Linked DNA regions of Homo sapiens: region 1 is linked to region 2. Evidence: fine-mapped expression QTL. A gene starts in region 2. The other region holds a variant in brackets. All regions are shown on one strand. Distances are from middle to middle.

What was found. PIP is the estimated chance that this variant, and not a neighbour inherited with it, causes the effect.
Region 1: its variant is fine-mapped to the expression of MICAL3 in whole blood (INTERVAL, PIP 0.99).

What each region holds. Positions count from the first base shown.
Region 1 is chr22:17,997,119-17,999,930 of GRCh38, forward strand. All of the region lies in intron 1 of MICAL3 (microtubule associated monooxygenase, calponin and LIM domain containing 3), which reads right to left. Among named protein-coding and RNA genes, the nearest start is that of MIR648, 18 kb to the left of the region's middle. The variant TA/T (reference allele first, on the strand shown) is at 1,444.
Region 2 is chr22:18,023,016-18,026,014 of GRCh38, forward strand. MICAL3 (microtubule associated monooxygenase, calponin and LIM domain containing 3) reads right to left here and starts at 1,546. Exons shown (of 32, transcript NM_015241.3): 1 at 1,266-1,546. RefSeq lists a silencer at 1,274-1,683.

The sequences.
Region 1 (2,812 bases), 26 kb before region 2:
AGTGGTGTGATCTCAGCTCACTGCAACCTCGGCCTCCTGAGCGCAGGCAATCCTCCCACCTCAGCCTCCAGAGTAGCTGGGACCACAGGTACACACCACCACGCCCAGCTAATTTTTGTACTTTTTGTAGAGATGGGGTTTAGCTATGTTGCCCAGTCTGCTCTCAAACTACTGGGCTCAAGCAATCTGCCCACCTCAACCTCCCAAAGTGTTGGTATTACAGGCATGAGCCACTGCGCCCGGCCCATCTGGTCTTATTAAATACTTCATTCTCTGCAAATGCAGACGTTTTCTCAGCTCTGATTATTTTTTCTAAAGTAATGACCCCCCACCTGGCTAGATGAATGCTTCTAGCAAAGGAAAAGACCAGAATGTGAAAATTGTACTGCAATAGAACATAAAGCCCGTCCAACCCCACCTCCCATCAGACCTGGGGTGGTGGCAGCAGCAGGCGTCAGGGCTCTCAGGCCTGCCCATTAGTCATCCCTAAGGCCCGTTAGCACACGGGTTAGGAGGAGCACACACTCTGGAATCAGAAAGCCCAGGATTGAACCCAGCCCTGCTTTCAGTCAAGGCTTTGTCACTCACTATCACTCCCTTGACCTAGGACCTCACAAAACCTTGTCATCCGTAAAACTGGGGATGATAAGTTCTACCTTGAATGTTGTTGTGAGGAATAAATGAGGTAATGTCTATGCAGCACCTAGCACAGATTCCTGCAGATAAACACTCAATAAATGTTAACTATCATCCACTACCTAGTCATCAGAAAAGCACAATGATCTGGTATCTTTAAGTCCTTCCGCTTCCAAAAAAAAAAAAGAAAAGAAAAAAGAAAAAGATGTGTGGATTTTTTCCCCCTAAAGGTCTCAGTGAAGTGAAACTTAAGAAGGAAAACCTGGGCCGGGTGTGGTGGCTTACGCCTGTAATCTCAGCACTTTGGAAGGCCAAGGAGGGTGAATCACCTGAGGTCAGGAGTTCGAGACCAGCCTGACCAACACGGTGAAACCCTGTCTCTACTAAAAAATACAAAAAATTAGCAGGGCGTGGTGGCAGGTGCCTGTAGTCCCAGCTACTTGAGAGGCTGAGGCAGAAGAATCGCTCGAACCCAGGAGGCAGAGTGCATGAGCCAAGACTGCGCCATTGCACTCCAGACTGGGCGCGACAGAGCAAGAGACTCCGTCTCAAAAAAAGAAGAAGAAGAAGAACCCAATTCAAATCCCAGTTCAGGGACCAACTCATTTGCAACTTAAAGCAAATCATGTTACCTCCATTTCTTTGCCTATAAAATGGGAATAATAGACTCTATTAAACTTTAACGACTTCAGAGACAATTAAGAATCAATGAGATAACAGGTCATGAAAAAGCTTTCACTTCCTCAAGTAAAAAGCAACTAAGTAGTAAATCCAGAGCATAATAATAATAATAATTATTATTATTAT[TA/T]TTTTTTTTTTGAGATGAAGTCTCGCTCTGTATCCCAGGCTGGAGAGCAGTGGCGTGATCTTGGCTCACTGCAACCTCCACCTCCCAATTCCCGGTTAAGCAATTCTCCTGCCTCAGCCTCCCCAGTAGCTGGGATTACAGGCGCGCACCACCACGCCCAGCTGGTATTTTTAGTACAAACAGGGTTTCACCACGTTGGCCAGGCTGGTCTTGAACTCCTGACCTCGTGATCCGCCCGCCTGGCCTCCCAAAGTGCTGGGATTACAGGTGTGAGCCACCGCGCCGGGCCCAGAGCATAATTATTATTAAAATGCCAGGCCCCATAATATTATGGAACATAAATAAGCCAATGATGGCTCTTATTTTTTCTAGAACATTAGATTTGATGCCCTTTTCGTCTGTTCACATGGAACCTGCTACAAGACGGAGAAGGCAAATGGCTGCTCCTAGCAGATCCCAGTTCAGAGGCACGGCCCAGCAAAGCTAGCACTCTGCCAATGGTCAGGCTTCGACCATCTGGGCCACTTCCCAGAAGCCAGTGCCAGGAGAAATTAGGTAATTCATCTGGTTCCACCTGGACATGTGAAACCAACGACAACCAAAATCCTCACCTGCAGGACTACTCGACAGATGCAGGAAAGGGTCCCCTTTGACCCTCTGCTCTTCTGTACTGAATGGTGTACCACTCTTCCAGGGCATGTGCCATCCTTCCTTTAAAGGGCAACACATGATCCAGGAAGAAGAGCTCAATTTTTCCTTATTTTTACTTCTAGGACCAAGACGTGAGTTTCATTTTTAATCTACCACAGAAATGTCTGGAGAGCTGGAAGTTTGAGTGGGAGGAGGAATGGGGGGGACCTCATTACCCTAATTTAAAAACGGAGCATGCAACCAAAACTGCATCCAATATCATCATCCCCAGGTCTCTCAAACCCAAGGAAGAGAGGAAAAATTTACTTTTATGTTTATTGAACATCTGCTACGTGCCAAGGACTGTGCTAAGTTCTTCACGTACATTATTTCCAAAGCCCATTTTCTCTTCCACACCTAGTAACACCATGGAATAACCACCACGGAACAGGATCATCCCAGGTGGGGGTTTGGGGGGAGGAATTACAATATGCAGTCAAGTTTAAGACGTTTCAAATGTTAGCGCTGTAAACACAAATAAACAGCCTTGACTGAGGAACCAGGTCTGAGTTCTAAAGTATCCTTTACAGGAGGAACACACAAACCATGTCTTTCCTATAATTATGAAATTAACTCAAGCTGTTGAATACACTATAAAAGAGATTTAAAACTTCTAAACCTGGAGCACAAGAAAAACTCACTATAAGACTTGAACAATCTGGGGCTGGATTTCTGACC
Region 2 (2,999 bases):
TGCCAGCTCTCTTTGCCTGTAGCTTGTAGGCATTTATGACAGTTGCATACCCTGCCCTCCAACGGCAGCCTGAGAGACTGAACTATTACCAAGTTCACCTGGAAAAATGTCACCCTGATTGATTAGAATGGTGGGTGGCCATCTTAGCTCATTAGAATCACCTGGGAAGTTAAAAAAAAAAAATCCAGTATGCACTCCAAATTTTCCCACCACCACTCCTCCCCACAAAAAGAAAATTTAAAAAATCCCAGTGTTTGGGCCATATCCCAGACCAATTAAGTCAGAATCTCCAGGGATTGGACCCAGGTAGCAGGATTTCTAAAAATCTCCCCAGCAGCCAGGCCTGAGAGCTAATGAATAGCACCACAGGGCCCAGCCTTTCAGCCTACAGCTTGTCTCGGTTTCACCCTTTTTTCATTTCTTTACAATGAAAATTCTAAATAGTTGATCACAGTGCCAGACCAATAAGAAAGCATTTTAGGGAGGAGAGAGGAGGGAAGGGGTTGGCAGGCACGGAGAGGACTTGACACACAGAAAGCATTTTGCTATGGAGTCATAACCATTTGATTCTAAGACACATGCAGCCTCCAGAAGTCATGCGGCCCCGCCCTCTGCTTCCAGGAGGGAATGAACTTGGCCGTCCTTTTGTTGCACACGCCCGGGAGCTGCGCCGGCGCAGCGCGCCCTGCAGCCTGGGAGCGCAAGCGTGTGCGCCACTGGTCCTGGGCCACCACCGCGCGCCGCGGGCGGGTGCAGGGCCCCTCTGCCGCAGGGAAACCGGCGTTCCCCGCGCAAAGCAGCCGCTGCTCCTAATGAGCTCATGGGTTCACCGCGCTGAGCTAGCCAGAGCGGACCCGGCTTCGCCAAGGGCCTGCTGGCTGTCCTGACACCTGGCCTACCTCGGGGGTGCCTGGGTACGCTCTTCCTTTGCCTGCGGGATAGAAGCACAATGAAAATGGGGTGGACGTGGCTGGGAGACAGCCCTGCTCTCTGGCAGGCTCTGGGGAGTGTGTGGTACGTGGCATCCGCACTGGTGGGTGTCGTGCGATGATCGAGACACGGATACTGGGTGTCTTTCCCACTAGGGGAGAGAGGGCTGCGTTTAGAGGGAAACGAAATAGATCCGAGAAACACAAAGATGTCACAAAGGAAACGCTTCCCCACCATAAGCAATCTAAATAAATGATTCTTAGAAGACATCCAGCAAAACACATAACCTTGTCATTTAGATTCGCTCGCCCACAGGGGGACTGGAGGGTACTCACCGACTAGGGCTTCACAGCCGCATCACCGCCGGCGGTGGGCGCCTGCCTCGGCAGGGGCAGGGTGGGTGCCCGCAGGGCACAGGTGCCGCCGTGGCTGCTCGCACAACCCCTGCAGCTGCGATCCCGCCCAGTTAGCCTCGGGGGCTGCACAGCCCAGCCCCCTCGCCCAGGGCCCAGGGGTTCTCAGGCCGCGCGGCGAGGACGGAGGGCTGCCCCGGGTGCCTGCCTACGCGGGCGCTCCCCGCCGGGACTCCGCCGGGGCTGCAGGAGCGCGCGCTGCTGGCTGGGCGGGCTGCGGCTCCGCGCGAGCGCCGTGGCAACGCGAGCGGGCGCCCCCAGGAGGCCGCGGAGCTGCGGCGTGGGACGCTTGGGTGAGGCTCAAGCCAAAACCAAACCCAAACCATTTCTCCTCCTCCCCATCTTTTCATTTTCTCCCCTTCTTTTCATTTTCTCCCCTTCTCCAACCCCTTCCTCGACACACGTTACTAGCACCTCGAAGGTTGGAAATTCCAGCACTCTCCTGAGGCCTCTTCCCCAGCGAATCCTGCTAACCACGCAGTCGGTGTTCGCTGTGTGTTCGAGCACACACCTCCTTGCAGTGGCTTCAGCACCCAGGTCTCCGGGAGCCAGTGAAGGAACCAAGTGTTGGATACTGAGCAAGTCGCGTAACATCTGAGTAGTCGTGAAATTGAAATTTCAACGGTATAAAGGACACGACGTTGTCTTACAGATTGAAAAATGCTATAAAATGAAGTTCTTACTGTTACTATGATGATGACCCTGGAGATCAGCGCAGAGCCCTGGGGGAGGGCTACAGTTGCAAGCGCTCCAAGGATCAGATCGCGCACTCCTCCCCACCGGAGAAAACCTCTTGATGCCGGAGCCCGGGCAGCCTCTTCCACACTTCCAGCCAGCCCCTTCCACACTTCCAGCCAGCCCCGGCATTGCCACAGCCCGTGGAGCTGGACAGAAATCCACCAGGCACTAAAATAAGTTAGATGGAAGACGGGATGGATTTGACCAAATTCCTATCAGCATCTGCTCAGTATAATTGCAACATTATAATCAGAGCAGAAAGAAGCCCAGAGATTATTTTGTCTTCAAGGATCATTGGCCTCAGTATTATCTCCATCTGAAGCTGTGTTGTCCAAAGCAGATTGACTCCAGCCGGCCAGCTCAGAAGAGGGCCGACTCTGGGCTGGCGACTCCTTGAGAAGGGCTCTCTCTGGTCCCAGGTGGTATTTACTTAACCGTATCATCATCTGCTTCATTCGTGTTCCCTTCATGTCCATCATGTGAGGACGGGAACTGACAGGGCCAGGGTGTCGGCTCAGAGGCAATCTCTGCTCATCCTCTAGAGCCCCACTTCATCACCCAGCCACTCTGTCCACTGTCTCCCCACCTACAAACCTGCAGGTGTTCTGCCCCAGTACTAGAATAAGGGAACACATTTTTACTGAGCTCTGACAATGTGACTGGGCTTTTCAGGAGCTATTTCATTTAATTTTTAATGTAAAACATTGTTTTACATATTAAGAACCTAAAAGCACAAACAGTAAGTAACTTGCTTGTGGAAGCTTATGCAGCGAGATAAGTGGTAAAGCTGCAATTCCCAGTTTTGTTTGATGCCACAGCTGAAGGTGCAAGGCCATCTGGGCACGGCCTGAGTGGATATTAGGGAAAAATGCCCTAAAAGGTCCAGAATCTCTAATAATTTCTCCTACTTCTCATTTT